Linked DNA regions of Homo sapiens. The protein of the gene in region 3 binds, or shares a complex with, the protein of the main gene of each other region. Each region holds a gene or a part of one and is shown on either strand. Other genes may lie near its edges. The genes, in order: TMEM231, CC2D2A, TMEM237 and B9D2.

The links.
Region 1: TMEM237 (region 3) and TMEM231 share a complex: the UniProt entries of both Homo sapiens proteins name them as parts of the tectonic-like complex.
Region 2: TMEM237 (region 3) and CC2D2A share a complex: the UniProt entries of both Homo sapiens proteins name them as parts of the tectonic-like complex.
Region 4: TMEM237 (region 3) and B9D2 share a complex: the UniProt entries of both Homo sapiens proteins name them as parts of the tectonic-like complex.

The regions. Positions count from the first base shown.
Region 1 is NC_000016.10:75,553,240-75,560,543, forward strand, and holds the start of TMEM231 (transmembrane protein 231), read right to left. Parts: upstream 2,971-7,304; coding exon 2,832-2,970; coding exon of another isoform or gene 2,735-2,831; coding exon 2,565-2,734; intron 1-2,564. UniProt on the Homo sapiens protein: Transmembrane component of the tectonic-like complex, a complex localized at the transition zone of primary cilia and acting as a barrier that prevents diffusion of transmembrane proteins between the cilia and plasma membranes.
Region 2 is NC_000004.12:15,598,848-15,602,053, reverse strand, and holds the end of CC2D2A (coiled-coil and C2 domain-containing protein 2A), read right to left. Parts: intron 2,526-3,206; coding exon 2,348-2,525; intron 818-2,347; coding exon 629-817; 3' UTR 502-628; downstream 1-501. UniProt on the Homo sapiens protein: Component of the tectonic-like complex, a complex localized at the transition zone of primary cilia and acting as a barrier that prevents diffusion of transmembrane proteins between the cilia and plasma membranes.
Region 3 is NC_000002.12:201,619,677-201,626,529, forward strand, and holds the end of TMEM237 (transmembrane protein 237), read right to left. Parts: intron 6,472-6,853; coding exon 6,350-6,471; intron 4,647-6,349; coding exon 4,579-4,646; 3' UTR 510-4,578; downstream 1-509. UniProt on the Homo sapiens protein: Component of the transition zone in primary cilia. Required for ciliogenesis.
Region 4 is NC_000019.10:41,361,147-41,369,102, forward strand, and holds the start of B9D2 (B9 domain-containing protein 2), read right to left. Parts: upstream 3,004-7,956; 5' UTR 2,812-3,003; exon of another isoform or gene 2,801-2,811; intron 2,780-2,800; exon of another isoform or gene 2,618-2,779; intron 2,378-2,617; 5' UTR 2,374-2,377; coding exon 2,286-2,373; intron 1-2,285. UniProt on the Homo sapiens protein: Component of the tectonic-like complex, a complex localized at the transition zone of primary cilia and acting as a barrier that prevents diffusion of transmembrane proteins between the cilia and plasma membranes.

The DNA.
Region 1 (7,304 bases), on a different chromosome or scaffold from region 3:
GAAAATAAAAGTAGTTTGTTGCAATAAGGGCTAAGATTTTAAGATATAGCATAAGAAATACTGAGTTCCAGTCCAGACTCTGTTCACTTCAAAGCAGTGGCTCACACCTGTAATCACACCTGTAATCCCAGCTCTTTGAAAGGCTGAGGTGAGTGTATTACCAGAGTTGAGGAGTTCTAGACCAGCCTGGCCAACATGGTGAAACCCTGTTTCCACTAAAAAACACAAAAAAGTTAGCCCGGAGTGGTGGTGCATGCCTGCAGTCCCAGCTACTTGGAAGGCTGAGGCGAGAGGATTGCTTGAACCCAGAAGGCAGAGGTTGCAGTGAGCTGAGATTGTGCCACTGCATTCCAGCCTGGCTGACAGAGTGAAACTCTGTTGCAAAAAAAAAAAAAAAAAAGAAAAGAAGAAAAGCTAGGGCAAATTGTACCACTTCTCTATTTCTTTTTAATTTTTTATTTTTTTGAAATGTGGGGTCTTGCTATGTTGCCCACACTGGCCTTGAACTCCTGGGCTCAAGCAATCCTCCTGCCTCAGCCTTCCAAAGTGCTAGGATTACAGGTGTGAGCTATCATTTCTGGCGGCAAATATTTTTATCTCATTTACCTGATCATTTAGAAATGTATCTCCAGGTCTTGAGATAACATTTGCATTGAAAATTCTCAGTTTCTCAGTTTTAGGCATTCTCTATTGAGTTCCCACAAGGAAAGATGATTTAGCTTCTTCTCTCCCCCAATTCCTCCCACCATCCCCTATCACATACCCAATACCTTTCTCATTACCCCCAATAGAGTTAAAATCTCTTTTTAGTAAACATTCAGTGTTCATATAATTAAGACTATGTCAATCCTATTCACAACTCTGATAACATTTTGGTTCTCAGTTTTCCTTACTTTTCATTTCCCTGCAGTTAATAATTATTTGCTTAGTTTTCTATGTACTTATACCATTTCATCAAAGAGCTGCTATTCCAATTCCTCAAAATTTGATGTTTAAAGGCATAAGATTTAGTCAAAACCTTGTTCATTGAAATATTGTCCCTAGGCCGGGCACAGTGGCTGACACCTATGATCCCAGCAGTTTGGGAGACCAAGGCGGGTGGATCACCTGAGGTCAGGAGTTCGAGACCAGCCTGGCCAACATAGTGAAACCCCTTCTCTACTAAAAATCCAAAAATTAGCCTGTAATCCCAGCTACTCGGGAGGCTAAGGCACGAGAATTGCTTGAACCCAGGAGGCAGAGTTGCAGTGAGCAGAGAATTGCAGCACTGCACTCCAGCCTGGGCAACAGAACAAGACTGTGTCTCAAAAAAAAAAAAAAAAAAGAAAAGAAAAGAAAAAAGAAAAGAAAAAAAGAAATGTTGTCCCTAATAGTGAAAAAGTCAAAGCAAACCTCAAAAAGAATACAGCTGATTAATAAGTATTGATACATATACAAAACTGAGCCTTCAATTTCTGTCATTATATCTACCTGTAACTCTATCATATTTTAGAATGAGCATGCACTTTTGTAATCAGAATATAAGAACATTTATAAAGTAATAGGAGAAAAGTAACCTGAATCATATTAGGTTGGTGCAAAAGTAATTCCGGTTTTTTGTCATTACTTTTAATGGCAAAAGCCGCAATGACTTTTGCATCAACCTATTACTATTTTTTTTGCAGTTATTTATACGACCAATCGGATTTTTAAAAACAATTTTATTTAGTTGCTGGGAACAAGTCTGATTTTCTTTTCTCCTCAGCTATACAAGGTTGGCTTGTAGGGCAATCATCTTAGATATGTCTGAAGAGATTCGAATTTGAAAGAAGGAAAACCAGAAGTTTCATACTTCTAAAGGAAAACGTTTTCAGAAAATGAGTGAAAAGGAGTGACTACAAAGGAAGCATTCGCTTATCTCAAAGCAAATACTAAATTACAGATTCCTCTCAGCGCTCTACTGGTGAAAAAATTTAAAAATAAATAAATAAATTACAGACAGTAACATGCTTCCATTTCATCCCGACAGCTTCAGGATGGCGCAGTCTCCAATGGGACAAACCCAGGGAGGCGTGACTCGGCCACAGCGCGTTCTGGGAAGGCCGCTTAACCAATCAGCGCCTTGGTTTCCAGGGGTCAGGTCTGCATAAAAATGCTGCCCTTTCCGTTCCTATAGTGGTGTGATGCAGAAACGCCGCGACAGAATGGGGTTATCTACATTAACAGCGCGCGGCCTTCCAGGCTCCTAAATGGACTTTCACAAACACCCTCCATCAGGCCAGGCCCGCGGGTGTGACCCGGGCAGACACAGGCTGCCCCCACACTTCTGGACTCTGTGTCAGGGCGCACACGCTGACAGCATGGCTAACTTTCTGGGGGCCGGGGACATCTGGGAGAAGCAGAATGAAACAGAAGATCGATTCCCTAGGTCCTAGGAGATGAAACGCCACCTTTGCGGGTTCGCGAGTCCTTAGGATCAAAGCTGGGCTCCCCAGGGCCGGGGCCGCTCGCCCCACATCCTCATTCCAGTCCCCATCCCCACCCTATCCCCGACTCTGCCCCAGGCCCAGGCGGGAACCACGCACCGAAACGAGCGGGACGCGCAGGCGATCCCCTTGCAGCCGGTTGAAGGCGGGGAACGTGCTCCAGGCGAGGAACCCGTCGCTTTCGGGTCCGAGCAGGGCCACGAGCAGCACCTGGTGTTGGAAGCGCACGGTCGGCTGCTCCTCGTAGCTGCTCCGCTTCAGCCAAAACCCTGAGTTAAAGAGGGCGGTAGGGAGGCGGTTAGGGAGGCCGGCCCTGGCCGAGCGCGCCCGGGGAGCCTCGTGGCACAGCGGCCGGGGCAGGCTCACCGTGGCTCCGGAAGGCCACCAGCAGCGGCGGGATGTACGTGAGCGCAGCGGCCAGCAGCAGGAACAGCGCGGCTTTGGAGCAGAGCCCCGCGCGGTAACTGCGCTCGACCGGGTGAGAGAAGAGCTCATAGAGCGCCATGAGCACCGCTCGCAGGCACTCCGCGAGCCGGGGGACCAAGTTTGGCTTCTCCTGGTTGCCATCGCCTCGGTCTCCACGGCAACCGACGGCTCACAGAAAGGAGCCAATAGCAAGGCCGCACCGAAAGGAGCCAGTGGCGGGGGCGGGGTTAGCGGGCGTGGCGCTGCCGGGGACGGTCGGCCTAGCTTTTCGAGCTGTGTACGTTTGCGTAAAGGCTGGGCGGCGATAGAACGTTTCCGTGGACCAGAGTCGTGGCTGTTGTCTGTGTTAACATTTGTGTAAAATAAGATGCCCATAAAAGTTGACTTGAACACTGAGGAGGAAGAACTAAATATTTAAATTTCAACTGACATGGACACAAACAATGGTCACCAAGTCCCTAAACAGGTTGTGGGAGCCCCTTGAGGCGTTCATCCAGCGCTGTTTCGGAGAAATCTCTATTTCAGTCTACTCCTATACGTCAGTTATTGAAAAACAACAATCGCAAAAACAAGTTGACCTTTTTGTGTTCCTTGAGCCCAGTCGCAAAGGGCCCTCGTGACTGGGCCTCATGCTAGACAACATGTTACAAAAAGATCTAGGGTCCCAGACCACGCCAAAAAGCTTCATGAGACCTCTCCTCGTCTGTGCACTGACGAGTGGCCGGCTCTGGAGCCCAGGTCGTTGCTTCCCAGTCTGGAGGTGAATCCTCCATAGTCTGGTGAGTGTAAATATATATATATATATGTCTTTTTCCTTCTCCTCTTCCCATTGCAATTTGCTTATTATATCAATCTGCTTATTATATTAATTTGCTTATTATAATATCTGCATTGCCATTTACGTGGGATAAAGCTTGCTTACCCTTAAAGGTACTGTGTGTGTGCCTTTTCTTCTCCCCTAGCGCGTCTCCCGCACAGAACGAACACCTGCTTTTGTGTCATCTGTTAACCCCCAGTGTGGTTCCTACTGAAGTCCAGTCAGTCACAAGCCTGGCCGTGGTCCTGGACCTGGTCCTGGGCTGAGATCAAAGCCAGGTGCTTTTGCCCCCAGATTTTCTGTTGCTTCCACTATGCTCCCATGCAAGACAGACACGGAAACACAAATCCCCTGGCTCTTCCACGGATAGAGTGGAATTACTACAAAGCTCTGATGCACTTCGTTAACCCTGTGTTGGGTACAGCTCAGCCGCGAGTTTTACAGGAATATATGGTCCTCCCCAAAGATCACTGGCTTATTGCTTAATTGAATGCCTACACCCCCCCGCCACCACCCCCAACCAATATTTCTAACATGGTAGAAGGACTTTTTAAAAAAATCTATGGTCCACAGCCAATTTCTTCATCAAATGGCCCTGAATGGCTGGGCACGGTGGCTCACGCCTGTAATCCCAACACTTTGGGAGGCCAAGGTGGGCGGATCACCTGAGGTCAGGGGTTCAAGACCAGCCTGGCCAACATGGTGAACCCTCATCTCTACTAAAAATACAAAAATTAGCCAGGCATGGTGATGGGCACCTGTAATCCCAGCTACTCTGGAGGCTGAGGCAGGAGAATCGCTTGAACCCGGGAGGCACAGATTACAGTGAGCGGAGATCACACATTGGACTCCAGCCTGGGTGGCAGCGAGACTCCATCTCAAACAACAACAACAACAACAAAAAGGTCCTGAGTGGCTGAGCACAGTGGCTCATGCCTGTAGGTCCAGCTACTCGGGAGGCCTGGGCAGGAGGAAGGCTTGAGCCCAGGAGGCTGCAGTGAGCCATGAATGCACTACTGCACTCCAGGCTGGGAGACAGAAGGAGACCTTGTCTCTAAAAAAATAAATACAAAATATTTAAATATAAGTAAATTTGTTAAAGGGTCAGTAAAATGACATTTAAGTGGAAAGACATGATAAGCTTTGTGATTTGGAAAAGTCACTCTAATGACAGCATGTCAGTAGTGTAAACCAAAATGTATCTGAGACAAGTCTCAATCAACGTAGAAATTTATTTTGCCAAGGTTAAGGACATGCCTGTGACACAGCCTCAGGAGGTCCTGATGACATACGCCCAAGGTGGATAGGGTATAACTTGAGTTTATACATTTAGGGAGACATAAGACATCAATCAATACGTGTAAGATGTACATTGGTTCAGTACTGAAAGATGAGACAAGTGGAGGTGGGGTGGGGCTTCCAGACCACAGAATTGGCAGATTCAGAGATTTTTCCAATTGTCAACTGGTTATTATCTAAAGACCTGGAATCAATAGAAAGGAATGTGTGGGTTTGTGGGCGGGGCACAGTGGCTCACGCCTGTAATCCCAACACTTTGGGAGGCCAAGGCAGGCAGATCACTTGAGGTCAGGAGTTCAAGACCAGCCTGGCCAACATGGTGAAACCCTGTCTCTACCAAAAATATGTATTAAAAAAAAAAACATTAGCTGCATCTGGCGGTGTCCACCTGTAATCCCAGCTACTTGGGAGGCTGAGGCAGGAGAATTGCTTTAACCCGGGAGGCAGCAGCTGCAGTGAGCCGAGATCATACCACTGCACTTCAGCCTGGGTGACAAAGTGAGACTCCATTTCAAAAAAAAAACAAAAACAAAAAACAATAAGGGGTTGTGGAGTCTAATGTTTTATCATGCAGATGAAGCCTCCAGGCTTCAGAGAGAACAGATTGTAAATGTTTCTTATCAGACTTTAAGAGTCTGTTCTATTAATATCAGTCTTAAGATCTATGTGTTGATGCTAATACTGGTCAGCTGGGTCTGAATTCCAAAAAGAGGAGGGTATAATGAGTTACGTCTGACTCCCCACTTCCCATGATGGCCAGACTAGTTTTTCAGGTTAACTTTGGAATGCCCTTGGCTGAGACAAGGGTTCCATTCAGATGGTTGGGAGCTTAGAATTTTATTTTAGGTTTACAGTATACCAGGATGGGGTCATTGAGTGAGGGGTGAGGAAAAACAGAAGTCAGGGAGACCAGTCAAGAGGCTGTTGAGGCTGGGTGAAGTGGCTCATCTTAGCACTTTTGTCAGAGGTGTTTGAACCAAAGCAACTCCATCTCGAATAGGGGCTAAGTAAAATAAGGCTGGGACCTACTGAGCTGTCTTCCCAGGAGGTAAGGCATTCTTAGTCACAGTATGAGCTAGAAGGATGGCACAAGATACAGGTTACAGAGACCCTGTGGATAAAACAGGATGCAGTTAAAAAGAAGCCAGCCAAGGCCGGGCATGGTGGCTCATGCCTGGAACCCTGTCTCTACTAAAAATACAAAAATTAGCTGGGCATGGTGGCGGGCACCTGTAGTCTCAGCTACTCTGGAGGCTGAGGAGGGAGAATCAGTTGAACCCGGGAGGCGGAGGTTGTAGTGAGCCGAGATCACGCCATTGCACTCCAGCCTGGGTGATAAGAACGAAACTCTGTCTCAGAGAAAAAAAAAAAAAAGAAAGAAAAAAGAAAAAAAGCCAGTCAAAAGCCACCAAAACCAAGATGGCCTTGAGTGTGACCTCTGGTCGTCCTCACTGCTCATGATCTGCTCATTGTAATGCATTGGCATGCTAAACGATACTCCCACTGGTGCCATGACAATTTACAAATGCCACGGCAATGTCCGGAAGTTACCCTATATAGTCTAAAAAGGGGAGGGACCCTCAGTTCTGGGGAAATCTCTGCCCCTTTCCTGGAAAAGTCAGGAATAATCTACCCTTTGTTTACCATATGGATCAAGAAATAACTATAAATTTACTCAGTCGAGTAGCCCATACTGCTGCTCTGTCTATGGAGTAGCCATTTTTTTTTACTCTGTGGACTTGCCCCAAATTCTTTCCTGTGTTGAGAGCCAGGAACCCTTTCTTGGGATCTGGATTGGGACCCCTTTCCAGTAACACTTTGGGATGCTAAGAAAGGAGGATTGCTTGAGCCCAAGAGTTAGAGGTTGCAGTAAGCAGTGACTGCACTACTGCACTCTAGCCTGGGTGACAGAGCGAGAGCGAGACTGTCTGAAGAAAGGGAAAAAAAAAAAAAAGCCCTGAAGGATCACATTGCAGTGTCAGGAGATGGCGTGAGGTTTGTGCTGGGTGGAGTCCAGTAGTTACTCCCACTACTTTGAAAGCAACCTCGAAGTGGCTTTTAGATGAAGAGAACAGCTGACATCCTAACATCACAGACTTAATAGAGAGGTCAAGACTGCCCATTTGGGAAAACCATCCTAGGGTCCTTACTACAGTCCAAGACGACAACGTCATCAGCCACAAAATGCTTTTGAAATATCAGGTTCAATACTACTTGTTCTTGATTAAAAGCTTTTCTGGGGTGGCAATGTAGTTTGTTGTTGTTGTTGTTTTTATACAGGGTCTCCCTCTGTCTAC
Region 2 (3,206 bases), on a different chromosome or scaffold from region 3:
TCTGGAACCAAGTGCACACTATCTCCGAGGTATGCCTGTACATGCAAACCTGTGGAAGATGAAGTAATCTTGCAGTCTTGGATATTTATTTGTTTTGTTTATTTGGAGAGAGGAGGAGGAGTAGCAATAAAAACTGGTAAACATTCAGTTCAGGCAAATTGTCTTAGTGTTTTCTAAAGATGAAGAATCATTTGATGGAATATAACTCACTACTGCTTTTTATTTCAACTAATATTTGAATTAAACACAGCAAAGGAGGAGGAACTCTAAAGGCTCTAATGATGCTCTCTTTAAAGCTTTACCTTGCTCTAAGGTAAAACTTGTTAAGTTTCTCTCACTTTCATTCCATTGCTGTTAATATTTGCCCAAGCAAAAGGTAAGTAAGTACAAAGGAATAGAGGCAGGAAGCTCATAATATATCGTACTGTGGGTAGTCTCAATTGAATTTCAGGGTCAAGTAGCAGACACAAGGCAGACTGCTAAATAGAACACTTTGCACAGTTTGAAAACAGTTGATAATTTTATTATTTGCCAATAATATGTTCTTCTGATGTGATGCATATAATTTAAAATTTTCTCATATCCTAAGTGTAGTTTTTACATGATACAGAAAGTACAGTGAAAAAAATTACCTGTTGCGTATAAGAGAGGCAACATAGATCCAAACAGACAAAACATTTTTGGGGTATGGGTGTATGTATACAGCTAAAGCAAATTCAACATTAGGAACATCAATATTATGTACTCCAGTACTATACACAGCGTCAATTAAAGGCTTCACTTCAGAATAAGGCATGTGAAGAGGAAATCCAGAGAACTGAAGGGAAAAAACATTTGTAGTCATTAGTGAAGTTTGAAGATTTAATACATTTTTTCCTACGTAAATGTATGCAATTAAGATAAGTGTTCTGGATCTCAGTTATTTGCTTGTGTTTTTCTACTCAGCTTTTTATTAGCAATACAGAAAATCGAGAGCTGCTTAATATCCATTTTGTTTTCCTTGCATATAGGTGTATAAGCCACCTGTTAGTCACTCCATCACTGTTCCCTCTTTTTGAAAGTACCTAGTATGCATCGTAACCATTGTAATTCCAGATACATAGGTTAAACTAACAAATACATTTCTTTTTTCTTTTTTTTTTTTTTTTTTGAGACAGGTCTGACTGTTGTCCATGCTAGACTGCAGTGGCATGATCATGGCTCACCACTGCAGCCTCGGCCTCCTGCTGGGCTCAAATGGTCCCCCCACTTTAGCCTCCTGAGTAGCTGGGACTGCAGGCAAGTGCCACCATCCTGGCTACTTTTTGTATTTTTTGTAGAGATGGAGTTTTGCCATGCTGCCAAGGCTGATCTTGAACTCCAGGGCTCAAGCGATCCGCTGCCTCAGCCTCCCAAAGTGCTGGGGTTACAGGTGTGAGCCATAGCGCCCGACAATAATTTTCGTCCCCTTGGCTACAATGATTGATCCACGGGGATGGGCAAGTGATCAAAGGGAGTCTCAGAGGGAATCTTGGGAAACTTGTTAGGAATAATGGCACGTGATGTTCTCCTGCTTTGGGTAGTATGTGCGCAGATGTGAATTCTGTAAGTGTTCCAGCATTTGCTTCCATGAGGAAACCCAGTCTCAGGATGATGCCATCATACGGAAGAGGAGGGCAGAATGGGAGGACTTGCAAAAGAGTGGGACAGCCCTGATAGCTACCCTCTAAGCTTTACTTAAGCCAGTAGATTCTCTATTGCTCAAGCCTTTTTGAGTTTTCTGACACTTGAACTGAAAATATCCTGGCTGAGAACCTGCCTTATAAGTTAAAGGATAAATTTTACTCAGTGAGTGATCTAATTTGACCTTCACACTGTTTAGCTAGTAAGGCTTACTGTTAAGTTTTAGTTACGAGCCTGCTTTGTAGGTTTTATTATCCAGCTATAGCATGTGAACATAGCAGCAGGCAGTAAAGAGGGTATATCGTCTATTAATAACCACCTTTCTTAGCAATGAAAAGCAATCAGTATAAAACCATATCCTTAAAAAAACTGCTCTAGAGTGTTTTGATCCTTATGCACAGTTGTGTCTAACATGATTTAGCCAGATGTTTTCATTTTTTTGATACGTAAATGTATTTCATAAAAGGTATTTTTCATGGGATACTTATATGAAAAATGGTGGTATTTTGCTATTTCATGATTATTGAGGTTTAAAACTTATGATCACAGTTTTTAGTTTATGCTGCTTTAAATATGTACTTCTGGGAGCAACGTGGGTCTTTTGATTCCAGAAACCTATTATTGGCTAATTTCCAATTTGAAACAAGGAAATCCACAGTCAGTTTAGGATCCATTTGTAACTTACCCTGTAGTCTCCCAGCTGTTTTAGCAGTTCTGCTCTGTGGTCATCTTCTACATCTTCTCCTTGACTTTTTTCTAACAGAGGCAAGAAGTGACGCAGAGTAGAGGTACAATACCTATTCCACCGAGTCAGATGGCGTGGCCTCCAGTCCATGATTTTTTCTTTTAGTATTTTTTCAATCCTGTTCACAAAACATAAATTCCATTTTTTGGTGACTCACTTTTCCCTTGTTAAAAAATGTATGTAGTATGTAGTGGGGATTCAGATGATTGTATAACTATATTTTTGTTGATGGAGTTGTGATTATCCAGGCATAGTTAATGTCTAATAATGGGCTACTCCCTGGGGATTCAAAATTAACATGCAGTCCTGTCCTTAAGGGTTGTATATGAGTTGAGATGGGAAATAGTCCTATAAATAGAAAGTATGTGTATCCTAAGAGCTATAACAGATGCTTGAAATGTAACACAGAAGAGGGAGTACTGAATGACTTGGGGATAGCTGAATTCAATACATGCAGCAAAAGTTTATTATTACTAATTTTTTTTAAAGGCAGGATCTTGCTCTGTTGCCCAGGCTGGATTGAAGTGGTACAATCACAGCTCACTGCATCCTCAACTCTCGGGCTCAAGTGAACCTCCCACCTCAGCCTCTTTGGTAGCTGGGACCACAGGTGCATGCCATTATGTCTGGCTAATTTTTTTTTCTTTTTTATAGAGACAAGGTCTTGCTATGTTGCCCAGGCTGGTCTCAAATTCTTGGGCTCAAGTGATCCGCCTGCCTTGGCCTCCCAAAGTGTTGAGATTACAAGTGTGAGTCACTGCGCTTGGCCATGAAATGTTTTTTTGAAATGTTATGACTA
Region 3 (6,853 bases):
TAAACATTCAGACACATTTTAAAATTCTGACCCTAAATATCTGAATCTTACTTACCTTTTCCCTTTATGGCACCTAATTTGGGACAACACACACACGAGACAATTGCAATGATTTACTCATGGGTCTGCCAACCTGCTGTCATCCATCCCTTTCACTGCCCCCGTATTAGTCCTTTGCAGTAACGAATGGAGCTGAAGGCCATTATCCTAAGCAGACTAACACAGGAACAGAAAACCAAATACCACGTTCTCACTTATAAATGCGAGCTAAACAATGAGAACACATGGACACAAAGAGGGGAGCAACAGACACTGGGGCCTACTTGACGGCGAAGGGTGGGAGGCGGGAGAGGATCAAAAACTACCTTTTGGGCACTAGGCTTATTACCTGGGTGATGAAATAATCTGTACACCCCCATGACACAAAATTTACCTATATAACAAACCTGCACATGTACCCTTGAACCTAAAAGTTAAAAATATAAATAAATGCAAACAGAACAAAACCAGAGAATTCCAGAACTTCTTTATTGTACATAAAAATCTGAATTTCTTAATATGGAAACCAAAGGTCTGCAAAATGTACTCTCCTAGCTCAGGATCATTATTTATTCCTCTTATTTTTGGAATCTATTCTTCTTTTATTCAAGGACCAACTCAAAGGTCAGCTTTTAGTTAACTCTTATATCCCCATACACATATCCTAAAGGCAGAGTTAACTGCTATATCCAAGCTACTTCTTGGCATATCCTTGTCAGCCTAAATAACAGAGAGGGAGACTCTCTGAAAGAAAATGATGTTTATTCAGGAGTAGGCATTGCAATAAGAATACAAGTGCCACAGTAAACTATGTGCATATACAGGGAGGTCAAGGAAGACAACGGTTTTTAAAGCAAAAATGATTGTTTTGAGAGAATTATCCTTGGCTACAAGGATCAATAACAAGGATGTTGCCAGTTGGACATTGGACAGGGAGTTGCTGGGCAAATGTCCTCATAGAAGTATTTTTTGTGTGTGTCAGGTTGTGATGGCCTTTGTGCAAGGTGTGGTTTTGTGCAGTCTTTTAATGATAGTCCTCATTATCAGACATCTGTGCATGAAAATCGTCCTTTCACGGCCTTCCCCAGCTCTATTTGTTAGGATTTTTAACACAATGACCAGAACTTGATTTTGACAACTTTCACATCCTATTAGTGGGCTCACACTGTTAGTTGCTAATCTCAAAAGATAGAGTTCTTTAGGGGCAGGAACCTGCACCTCACCTTGTGCTCCTCAGAGTACATGGCCCAATATCCCAAGGCCCTTAACACATTTGTCATTATTTCAGATTTATACTATGTGGTGTGTTAATTACTGCACCCCATGAAACTTGCTGTCCAGCAGCTCACTCTGTTCTTAGGGTTCATGTTATGCAACATAAAGTACACAGCATCACAGATGAAGTCATATTTTTTTAAAAAATCTAATCAAACCACCAGACCTAACCTCCAGTCTATAGGAAATTCAGGAGATTGAGGAACAAATTAAGTGATGTCATTAGGAAAAAGTCAGACAATTAAAAAATGTAGGTGAGGCACTCTAAAGCAACTAGCTTGGACTCTTCAAAAAATTGTCATGGGAAATTAGAATGGTACCGCCAACTCTGGAAAACAGCTTGGCAGTTTGTAACTACATACAACCCATCAGTTTCACTCCTGGGCATTTATCTTAAAGAAATGAAAACTTAATGTTCACACAAAAACTTGCACATGAATGTCCACAGCAGCATTATTCACAGACTGGAATGAGCCCAGATATCCTTCAATAGGTCAATGAGTTAAACCAAACAAAACAGTAAAAGGAAATGAACTATTGATACACACAACAGCTGAGATGACTCAGAAAAAAAGAGATCAACAGAAAAAAAGCGAATCCCATAAAATTACATACTGTATGATTCAATTTATAACATTATTGAAATGACAGAGTTTTAGAAACTGAGCTCTTTGTACCTGGCCAAGGGCTCTGATCAGCAAGGTGCCCCTGTGTTATCTACCCAGTGCAGTGCTTCACCAGGATGGCAATAAAAGTATTTTAAGTCAGTGAGTAATGAGAAACCATGATGCCCTACCAATTGGACTGGATCAGCTTGCATGTCAATCTAGTCCACTGTAAGCTGGAGAAAGTTACATGAATTCTCATCGACGGCCTCAGCAATGTGCCTCAAGTGTCACTGTGAGATCATTCCCTGCTTCCTGGAGACATGCATTAGCAGTGAACTTCTTCCAAACTTCCCTGTCATCACAGTCAAACAATTTTTGAGACACACCAGAAACACCAGGGAAAACAGAGTCCTCTGTACAAGTCCTTAATCAGGGAATACTCAATGTTTTTCCCTGATGAAGGACTTGTACAGGGCCACTAGCTGCTCAGGTTTATATGCCTCCTGGGTCATTACGAGATCTGAAGTCTAAGTTGTACTTCCCAGACCTGGAAGAATACAAAGGCAACTATGCCCATGGCAGTTACATATTATCAATGTAGCCAGCTTTCCCAAGTGCATTCCACAGCAGCTCTAGCCTTCTTTATTCTCTAGGATATATAGCTTTCTATTGCTGCCATAAGCAATCACCACCAATTTAGCAGCTTAGTCAACATACACTTGCTATCTTACAGTTCTGTATGTCAAAAGTATGACATGGGCAGCACCAGGCCAAAACCAAGGTATCCACAGAGCTGCCTTCCTTTCTTGGCTCTAGGGGAGGATTTGTTTCCTTGCTCATTTGGGATACTCATAGAACTCAGTTCCTTGTGGTTATGTGACTGAAATCCATTTCCTTGCTCATTGTTGGCCAAGGGCCGTACTCAGCTGCAAGGTCATCACTCTCCTTGGCTCATGGCCCCCTCTTCCATCTTCAAAGCCAGCAATATCATAACTTCTGACCTCTCTGACCACAGACATAAAAGGCTTTCTTCTCTGCTTTTAAGGACTCATAAGATTACACTGGACCCTTCTGGATAATACAGGATAATGTCCCCGTTTTAAGGTTCATAACCTTAATCATATCTGCAAATCCCTTTGGCCAAGTAAAGTAGTATATTCACAAGTTCCAGGGATTAGGACATGGACATCTTTAGGAGACATTATGCAGCCTACCACAATCCCCCACATTGGCAGCAGCTTTCTCACATTTCTCTTTGATGACACGGCTCAAGTGTGCTAAGCCTTGGCTCTAACGAGCATGGCTTCCCTGAAGTTTGCTGACGGGGAAGATTATGAACTCCTATACTGCCAGCTTATTGCCAGATTGAGAACCATTGCTGGTCACAGTGAAAGCTGGAACTAGCAGGATGCCTTCAGAATTGCCAGCAAATTCACAATTCTGTGACAGCAGGGAGAATCCCTTTTCGGCAGCTCCAGCCTTACAAACAGCAAAAGAGATTCCCAGTATAATGTTCACTCCAAATTTAGACCTATTGTCAGGGTCAACTGTCTCTATCATCAATTTGTCAATCCTCTTCTGTTCTATAACATTCAGGTGCTTGCTAATCAGGGCAGGCTCAATAGTTTTATTGATGTGCTCAACAGCCTTTGAAACATTTTTTCCCATAGCTAGTCTTCTCCTCAACTTGAGCTTTAGGGTCTCATATACAACAGCTGAGGTACCATTGGATATAGTTCTGAAGAGATCTTTCCCAGTGCAGGACCCATCTCAAGAGGGGGATTTCCTGGAAAACCAGAAACCTCTCTGACAAAGAGCTGGAGAACAGAGATGGTGAATTTCTACTCCTATTTCTTGTCACTCAGAAAAAAGGGACAGAGGAAAGGGTACTGCAGATGTCAACTGGGAGCCCACAAGCTCACAGGTCTCTCCTTTATTCCCCTGAGCCTTGCCCTGCTCAGCCTCTTTTGCTACATAGATTTTTAAAATCTCCCTCTATGATCCTGATGTACAACCAGATATGAGAACCACTAGTACAGATTATAATGAGAAGCAACTTTTTAGTTACTTCTAGGTAAAAAATTTAGGTTATATAATTTTTCAAACAAAACATACATTCCCTTTTTATTGGTCATAATGTAGAGCATCTTTCAAGCTAAATTATATTATAATTATTACATGATACTCAATCACTAAGCCAGTTTCAGAAAAGACAAACTTCATATTTCAATTTATTCAGTAAGGGGAGGTCAAAAATGAAGGCTTTTTTCCCTTCTACCATATTCGCTAAATTTATGTTTAAACCTGATATATATTTTATAACACTATTTAAGTTATGGCTTTTTCTAAACCAGTGCTTTTTAAGGTAATAGTTATAAATACAACTGTTTTGAGAAAATAGGAAATAAACACTTTCACTTGCTGGTTTCTAGTTCATTATTCCCTTTGTCATTAAGATGATAATGCTAGACAAATTAATGTTTAGACATAAACAGCAAACACAATTTTAACATTTTTCATAATATTGAGAGATGTTTCAGTATTATATAATCAAAAAATCTATTACAAATACACATGTATACATCTTATAAAAATACATTTAAAAACAAAAATGGGACAAATACTGGGTCATTATTCCTCCAAAGGTGAGCTGGTATTATGAAGAGGCTTTGATTTCTTTCTCTTTATCAGGATATTCTTCCACCTCTGAGGAGAACATTAACTCTGGAGAAGAAAATGAACAGATCATACTTAAAATTGTTTCCCAGTACCTCCAACAGAGTTGTATAGCTTATTTATAAATAGTCCTTTAAAAAATTGACATAATATATACTAATAGAAAGCCCTCAAGTAAGATTTCTTGACAGTGAAATATGATTTAAAAGGTAAGCTGATAACAAATGTACAAGTTTTACATTTTAAAATATTTAAATTTTAAATTATAGACCCCTTAAAAGTAAAATGTAATAGAGACAATATACACAATCCTACCTGGAAATTTAAGTCACTTAGAGAATCAAAGATCATTAAACAGCTAAAATGTCTAATTCTACAGTGATCAGATCATCTGAAACATAGGGGACAGATACAGAGGAAGGACTTGGAACTAACAAGAGATGTGTGCCAGGATATTTTAAATGGGTCATCCCATTTAATCATCAAAACAACGCAAGAAGCCAGGTATTATCATCTCATTTTATACTTACTTTTTAAATCCACATGTTGTATGACTAACATGGCCTTAAAAGAACAGGATTCTGGAAATATTTAGACTGAATACTGCACAATCCAGATGCAGTTTTGATCCCAGCCACAATGTAGAATGTTATTAGCTGACATTTTCTACATTTAAACTATTACTTAGCATAGATGTTGGCGAAATTCTGCATGCTAAGGCTTCTGAGGCAGATAGGTTGTAAATAGTTGGTCAAATAAAAAATAAAATAATAACCAAGACCCAGAAAATATCCATAAAAGATGTTTGGCCAGGCGCGGTGGCTCACGCCTTAATCCCAGCACTTTGGGAGGCCGAGGCGGGCGGATCACGAGGTCAGGAGATTGAGACTGTCCTGGCTAACATGGTGAAACCCTGTCTCTATTAAAAATACAAAAAATTAGCCGGGCGTGGTGGCGGGCGCCTGTAGTTCCAGCTACTCGGGAGGCTGAGGCAGGAGAATGACATGAACCCGGGAGGCGGAGCTTGCAGTGAGCCCAGATCGAGCCACTGTACTCTGACCTGGGCGACACAGCGAGACTCCATCTCCAAAAATAAAAAATAAAAAAAAAAAGATATTCAAGGGTAAAACTGTTGAACATTGGCCAAGGAAACACAATTTACAATACAAATACTAAACAGTTCCTCAAGCAGCATAAAAGGTTAGCAGTTTGCTAATATGATGATTCTTCTTCAGGTGTTCCAAAAGGGGTCTGGGGACTAGAGATGAGTGAATCACTGCACACTGAGCATGTTAAAAGAGTACTAAACACTGTTAGCCAATGAACGGTTAAGAATTTGTACCAAATAGAGAAGGAAGAATAATTGACTTGAGTATGTGTCCGACAGAGAGGCTATGTAGACAAAGCATGATTTATTTCAAAATTCATCAGCAGGAGACTAAGAGAAGTGAAGAGCAAAGACTTTTTCTACATTACTTGAAGGGTTCCAAGAGAAGAAATACCTCCTGAAAATGCACAAGGGCCACAGAAGCCCCTCATTAAGTAGTTCCAGACTCAAGCCCTCCTAGACACTCCTCCCTGCTTCTCTTGGCATTCTGTTACACCACTTTATTTTCTCTCTTCTTGTATCATTTTAATTTAAATGTGTCTTTGTTATTGGAATATTATAAGCTATACCTATTAAAAGGAGGTTTATAAAACCATTATAGAAGATTTCAGGATATTCTTATGCTATTTTTTTTCTTTAATACCTTCACTAAGATCCATGCCTGGCCTATAAGACAAAAATAGCCAAGATAATCCAACCAGAAGAGCCACCACGAGATTCACCACAATCCATGGCTGGAGAATCTGTTCCTCAATTCCTGCTTCCCTAAAAATGTAGAAACACTCATTAGAAGTGCCTTCAGTTTGGTTCATATACACAAATATATCTATTTTATGAACTTTAAGAAAAAACAGCAGTCCTCTCCTAGAGAAATAACAAGTAAAGTGTGAAAGAAAATATAATTTCCCTGTAAAATATACCACATATATAATGAGAACAAGGGTTCAAAGGTTATTTAAACTCTGAACAGATCTGCTGTATACATTCATATAAATGCAAAGTTAGTATTCCCAAGAAAATTCTCTAAAAGTTTTCCTTCCAACTACCATGACATTAATCCTCAATAAAGTATCTTTGCTTTCTCTTTACCTAATGTCCCTAGCCACTCTCTCAAAAAAGACTACTTTTGGATGCTACGTGCAGCATT
Region 4 (7,956 bases), on a different chromosome or scaffold from region 3:
AGCCTTTCATCCAACTGCCTCAGTATTCTTGGCTGGATCAACATCCCCAGCAACTCCCTGAAATAATAAAAATCAGGTTAGTCATTACTCCCTTCTGGGCTGAGTTGAGGGAAGCACCAGGCCCTGCGTCAGGCTCCTTAAAAGCAAGATTTCCCAACAGCCCTATGAAGAACAAATGAGGAAACTGAGGCTCCAAGAGGGGACAGCCTCTGCCCAGGGTCACAGAGAAGGTGAGTGGTCCAACCTGGAAACCAAGTCTGACTCCAGAGCCTGCCCCTCATCCATCAGCTGGAGGGTTCCGATTTCCTGGGAATTTCAACTTCCACCTCACTTACCTGTAGAATCAAAAAGGACCCAGGGGCCAGGCGCAGTGGCTCACACCTGTAATCCCAGCACTTTGGAAGGCCTACGCAGGCGGATCACTTAAGGCCAGGAGTTCGAGACCAGCCTGGCCGACATGGTGAAACCCCATCTCTACTAAAAATACAAAAATTAGCTGGGTATGGTAGCGGGTGCCTGTAGTCCCAGCCACTCGGGAGGCTGACATAGGAGAATCGCTTGAACCCAGGAGGCAGAGATTGCAGTGAGCCGAGATCGTGCCACTGCACTCTAGCTTGGCTACAGAGTGAGACTCTGTCTCAAAAAAAAAAGGGCCAGGCGCAGTGGCTCACGCCTGTAATCCCAGCACTTTGGAAGGCCTACGCAGGCGGATCACTTAAGGCCAGGAGTTCAAGACCAGCCTGGCCGACATGGTGAAACCCCATCTCTACTAAAAATACAAAAATTAGCTGGGTATGGTAGCGGGTGCCTGTAGTCCCAGCCACTCGGGAGGCTGACATAGGAGAATCGCTTGAACCCAGGAGGCAGAGATTGCAGTGAGCCGAGATCGTGCCACTGCACTCTAGCTTGGCTACAGAGTGAGACTCTGTCTCAAAAAAAAAAAAAAAAAAAAAAGGGCCAGGCGCAGTGGCTCACGCCTGTAATCCCAGCACTTTGGGAGGCCGAGATGGGCAGATCACAAGGTCAGGAGATCGAGACCATCCTGGCTAACACAGTGAAACCCCATCTCTACTAAAAATACAAAAAAAAAAAAAATAGCCGGGCATGGTGGCGAGCGCCTGTAGTCCCAGCTATGCAGGAGGCTGAGGCAGGAGAATGGCATGAACCTGGAAGGCTGAGCTAGATTGCACCACTGCACTACAGCCTGGGAAACAGAACGAGTCTCAAAAAAAAAAAAAAAAAAAAAAAAGGGACTAGGACTCAGGCCTGAAGACATGATAATGCCAAATGGCCACATCTGTTTCATAGACATTCATCTGTGCCACGCAACAACATACCCCAGGCTTTACAAACAAGACCCCATCAAAGTCTTGTATAAGCCAGGCAAACACTGAATGAGCACTTCCTATTCCAGCCCTATTCCTATTCTAAGTGCTGTTGATACTCGTTTAGTACTCATGACAACTTCAACAGGTAAATATTTCTATGACTCTCATTGTACAAACAAGGAAGTCGAGGTGAAGAGAAGTGCCCAAGTTCACATAATCAGCCCAAGGGTGCCTTAACAAGCAATAACTGGTTTTGAACCCAGGCAGTCTGTGCTCTTAACCTCAAACCTGTGCTGCTTCTTAGCTACTATTAGCTTCACTTTGAAACAAGGAAACTGAGGCTCAAAGTGGTCGAGTCCAAAGGTCTCCAATTAATAGGTGGGGGAGTTAATATTTAAATGCAGATCTGGCAGCCCATGACCCTAACCATTACACTATACCATGACTCTATAGGGCCTCAGTTGGGGAAGCATGAACAAAATTACTTTCCTGGGACGTGGCGGCTCACGTTTTTAATCCTAGCACTTTGAGAGGCTGAAGTGGGTGGCCTGTTTGAGCGCAGGAGTTCGAGACCAGCCTGGGCAACATAGCGAGACCCTGTCTCTACAAAAAATAAAAAAAATTAGCCAGATTTGGTGGTGCGTGTCTGTAGTCCCAGCTTCTCAGGAGGCTGAGGCGGGAGGATCACTAGAGCCCGAGAGTTCGAGGCTGCACTGAGCTATGATCACACCACCTTACTCCAGCCCGGGCGCAGAGAGAGACCCTGTCTGTATCCCACCCCTCACACACACAAAGATGGGAGCTTGAGACTCATGTGGACAGGGTGTGGGCTGGGCCTGGAGTACTGAGAACTGATGGAAATGAGGTTAAGAGTCTGCGTTAAGGGGTGGAGGAAGGAGCATGTAGCCTCTAGGCTAGGGGTCTTGGTGTGGAAATGAACCAGGCTTGGGGGAATACCTGTGTGAATGCCCCACTTGCAGAAGAGGCTACTTTCCGAGAAACCGCTGGCCCCTATGATCTGCCCGATCACGTGCACCTCAGCCATGGCCCTGGGAGGGGAAAAATATAATCACAACCCTGTGAGGTAAGTGTATTATCTCCATTTGACGGGGGGGAAACTGAGGCCCAGCAAGTAAAGGGTAGTACTAGGATTCCAAGCTAGCTTCGTCACACCCCTGAGGCTGAGGTCTTGACCACAGATCCTAATTGCCAACCCATGAAAGCCTGGAAAAAATGGGGGGACCCTTGTCTGGGGAACCAGCATTTAACTCTGGGAAGTCCAAAATAACCTTTTCGGGTTCAGGTCGGCGGAAAGCCCCGCCCGAAGGGGCTATGGCTCCGCCCACGAGCGCAAAAGACCCGCCTTCCGCGTCACGCCAGCCACCCCGCTTCCCTCCCCCAGCAAGCTCCATAAGGCGCATGCGTTATGAGTTCAGGTCCGACTTAACCCCGCCTCTAAGCGCAGCGCATGCGTCATTCCTACCTTAGCGCACTTAACGGTTAGGAGAGGAGAAAGCGGCAACCGGGGTTGTAGTTCATGGGCTTGACTGCTTCTTTTCTCCGCGGGCGCCGACCAGGCCTGGCTCGCGCCTCTCCCAGGACCCGCCTGGCTGCGAGATATGTAAGCCGCGATACTTCCGCGACCGCGCTCGTCTTGGTTTCCGTGGTTGTTGCTGGGGCAACAGCAGGCTCCTCCCCTAGCTTTGTACTCGCTCTGCGCGCTACTAATTGGTGCTAGCCGTCTGCGGGGGGCGGGGTGAAGCTGTGATGGACATTTTCCTCCTCCGCTCCATTTTGGGAAAATAGCGTCTCTCCAGCTACGGCAAAGGGTTCCGCCATTTTGGGCGTGGCTAGGAAGCTGCCATGTTGAGTGTGGCTGAGGAAGTTTGAGTGCAGTTTCTCCCAGATACCTTCTTTACCAAAAAAGCAAATCCCTAACTGCTCCGTGCTGCGCCTACCCCACCGAAGAGCTCTCTGTGGTCCGGGATCACAAATCAGAGATTGAACCAGGACCAAGGGGGAATTCCTTCCAGGACCTCGTGTACATCCCCGGCCTTGTAACTGGAAAACAAAGCAAAAAAATCACTCCTCATTCAGAGAGTGGAGAAGTTGGGGAGTGGGTTCTGCTTCCGTTTTAGAGTTCCCCTAGGTTTCTCAAGGACAAGGAAGGAAGGAAGTTGGATAAGTCCAACTTCCTTCTCGGAGCTACTACCAAGTTCACTGTTACTGCTTGATTCTGAGCAAGGAGCGGTTGGGGTAGCGAAGAGAAATGAGGAACTAAGATTCCCTTATTTGCAGAAAATCCTCTTTCCTATTGATTGATTTATCAATCAAGAAATGGAGATGTTGTCCCTGGATGCCATCCTAGATGCCATCATTTCCCACATCAAGCCAGTCATCAGGTCCCATCAAGGCTCCTTAAAAGGGTCTCACTCTGTCACCCAGGCTGGAGTACGGTGGCTCGATCACAGCTCATTGCAGCCTCTTAACTCCTGGGTTCAAGGGATCCTCCTACCTCAGCCTCCCATGTAGCTGGTATCACAGACATGCACCACCACGGCTGGCTAATTCTTTTTTTTTTTTTTAAGAGATGGAGTCCTGCTATGTTGCTATGTTGCCCAGTCTTGTCTTGACCTCCTGGGCTCTAGCTATCCTCCCAGTTCTCCCTCCCAAACTGCCGGGATTACAGGCGTGAGCCACCCAGCCAGGCCAATAGATACAAAGTATTTACAAGCTACCATTGGCTAGGCGCGGTGGCTCATAACTGTAATCCCAGCCCTTTGGAAGGCTGAGGCGGGAAGAGCTCTTGAGGCCAGAAGTTCGAATATAGGGAGACCCCATTAATAATGCATATATCAACTAGTGAAGTATTCCATTGAATTGTTTAATATAAATGTTATCCTATTGAAATGTTGTACCCTCGTTATAATTTTGGTTTTTTACTTTTTGAGATGGCGTCTCCCCCTGTCATCCAGGCTGGAGTGCAGTGGTGCGATCCCAGCTCACTGCAATCTCTGCCTCCCGGGTTCAAGAGATTCTCCTGCCTCAGCCTCCCGAGTAGCTGGGACTACAGGCGTGCACCACCACACCCAGCTAATTTTTGTATTTTTAGTAGAGACGGGTTTTCACCATATTGGCCAGACCGGTCTCAAACTCCTGACCTCAGGTGGTCCACCCGCCTCAGCCTCCCAAAGTGCTGGGATTACAGGCGTTAGCCACCGTGACCGGCCGGGTTTTTTTTTTTTTTTTTTTTTTTGACAGAGTCTCCCTCTGTCGCCCAGGCTGGAGTGCAGTGGCATGATCTCTGCTCACCACAACCTCCGCCTCCCAGGTTCAAGCAATTCTTCTGTCTCAGCCTCCTTAGTAGCTGGGATTGCAGGCACCCACCACTATATCTAGCTAATGTTTGTGCTTTTAGTAGAGATGGAGTTCCACCATGTTGGTCAGGCTGGTCTCGAACTCCTGGCCTCATGTGATCCTTCTGCCTCAGCCTCCCAAAGTGCTGGGATTACAGGCATGAGCCACCTCGCCTGGGCCCAGCTACTTTTTGTATTTTCTTTTTTATTTTATTTATTTACTTTTTTTTTTTTTTTTTTTTGAGACAGAATCTTGCTCTGTTGCCCAGGCTGGAGTGAGCCTCTGCACCTGGCAGAGGTTTCACTTTTAAATGATCTTTCTGTCCTTTAAGCTGGAGCTGGGGAAAATGTATTTATTTATTTATTTATTTCTGGATGCTGTGTGGGTGAGGTAGACAGCTCTAACCTTTCAGCTCTTGGGGCCCCTGGTCCCCTAGTGGTGGCACCAGCCTTGCATTCTCTTTTCTCAAGCCCCCATTTTGTCCATCAGGAAATCTTACTGCCTCTACTTTTGAAATACACCCTAAATCCCACTTCTCACCTCTTTGTCGCCCTGCACCTTGATCTGTCCAAGTTCATCTATCACCTGGACTATGACAGGGACCTTGTCTCTGGGGTCCCCTTTGCCAACCCCTCTAGTTTGCACCCCACATGCAGCTGGAACCCTGTGAACACCTAAGTCAGGTCCCATCTGCTCAGACCCGTCCAGTGGTCCCCATTTCACTCAGGGTAAAAGCCAAAGTCTTATCATGCATGACAAGGCTCTCCACAACCTGGCTGGCACCTCCTGCCTCATTTTTGTATTTTTAGTAGAGACGGGGTTTCGCCATGTTGGCCAGGCAGGTCTCAAACTCCTGACCTCAGGTGATCTGCCCACCTTGGCCTCCCAAAGTGCTGAGATTACAGGCATGAGCCACTGCTCCCGGCTGAGGTCTTCATTCTGAAGGCTCCCATGTATACATGTTAAATAAAAGAAAATAAATTATCGTCAACTATAAATAATGAGATTCAGAAAATATGATTGAGGCCGGATTCGGTGGTTCATGCCCGTAATCCCAGCACTTTGGGAGGCCAAGGAGAGTGGATACCCTGAGGTCAGGAGTTCGAGACCAGCCTGGCCAACATATAGCGAAACCCTGTCTCTACTAAAAAATACCAAAACTAGATGGGTGTGGTGGCACATGCCTGTGGTGTCAGCTATTTGGGAAGCTGAGGCAGGAGCATCACTTGAACCTGGGAGGCAGCAGTTGCAGTGAGCCGAGATCACGCCACCGCACTTCAGCCTGGGCGACAGAGCCAGACTTCTACTCTCAAAAAAGAAAAAAAAGAAAAGAAAGGAAAATATGATTAACTATAGAGTTTATTCCAGGCTACAGGACCAGTACATATGTTACAACAGTTTCATTAGTACATCTTGCTATGCTGCAGGGAAGATTGCGTTAACATTCTGATAGGAGGAGGAGTACTCTTTCTTTCTTTCTTTCTCCTTTCTTTTTTCTTGAGATAAGATCTTGCTCTGGGGCTGGGCGCGGTGGCTCACGCCTGTAATCCCAGCACTTTGGGAGGTTGAGGCGGGCAAATCACGAGGTCAGGGGTTCAAGACCAGCCTGGCCAACATGATGAAACCTCGTGTCTACTAAAAATACAAAAATTAGCTGGGCATGGCGGCGGGCGCCTGTAATCCCAAGTACTCGGGAGGCTGAGGCAGGAGAATCACTTGAACCTGGGAGGCGGAGGTTGCAGTGATCTGAGATCGTGCCATTGCACTCCATCCTGGGGGACAAGAGTGAGACAAAGTCTCAAAAACAAAACAAAACAACAACAAACAGATCTTGCTCTGTTACCCAGGCTGGAGTGCAGTGGCACAATCACAGCTCACTGCAGCCTCGAACGCCCAGGCTCAAGCCTCCTGCCTAAGCCTCCCCAGTAGCTGGGACTACAGGCGTGTGCCACCATGCCCAGCTAATTTTTCAATAATTTTTTCTGTAGAGACATGGTCTCACTCTGTTGCCCAGGCTTGTCTCAAACTCCTGGGCTCAAGTGATCCACCTCTGCCTCCCAAAGTGCTGGGGTTACAGATGTGAGGCCACAACACCCGGCCTAGGAGTAATGTTCTGAGGTGATCTTATCTCTGGCACTGCTTGGTCATTCTTAATCATTTACAGGAAAAAGCAGAAGTTGTAACTGCATGCTACGTGACTCAGGCTACATAGCAACATTCCTCTCAAGGCTTGGAATAATTTAAAGTTCCAACAGCTTTAAGTTTGAATTATCTAACCACATTATCGAAAGTTGGCCAGGCCTGGTGGTTCATGGCTGTCTGTAATCCCAGCACATTGAGAGGCCACAGCAACAGGATCACTTGAGGCCAGGAGTTCTGGACCAGACTAGGCAACGTAGTGAGACCCTCATTTCTACGAAAACGTTTAAAAAAAAAATAGCAGGGCATGGTGACACATGTCTGCAGTCCCATCTACTTAGGAGGCTGAGGCAGGAGGATCCCTTGAGCCCAGGAGTTTGAGGCTGCAGTGAGCTGTGATCATGCCAAGGTACTTCAGCCTGGGTGACAGAGTGAAAACCTGTCACCTTTTTTTTGGGGGGGGTGGTTATTGGGTTTTTTTGAGACAGAGTCTCGTTCTGTGGGCCAGGGCTCACAGCAACTTCTGCCTCCCAGGCTCAAGCAATTCTCCTGCCTCAGCCTCCCAAGTAGCTGGGATTACAGGCATGTGCCACCACACCCGGGTAATTTTTGTATTTTTAGTAGAGACGGGGTTTCACCATGTTGGCCAGGCTGGTCTTGAACTCCTGACCTCAAGTGATCCACCTGACTCAGCCTCCCAAAGTGCTGGGATTACAGGTGTGAGCCACTGTGCCCGGCCTGAAGCTGTTTTAAAATATATCCACAAATGCTTGGGCAGCCCCCTTTCAGTAAGTGGAGCCTAATTCTCCTTCCCTTCAGTATGGCTAGTTTTTGTAATTTGCTTCTAACCAATAGAATATGGGGCTGGGCACAGTGGCTCACACCTGTAATCCCAGCACTTTGTGAGGCCAAGGCGGGCAGATTGCTTGAATCCAGGAGTTTGAGAGCAGCCTGGACAACATGATGAAACCCCATCACTACAAAAAATACAAAAAATTAGCTGGGTGTGGTGGCATGCCCCTGTAGTCCCAGCTACTCTGGTGGCGGAGGTGGGAGGATCGCTTAGGTTGAGAGTTGGAGGCTACAGTGAGCTGTGATTGTGCCACTGCACTCCAGCCTGGGCAACTGAGTG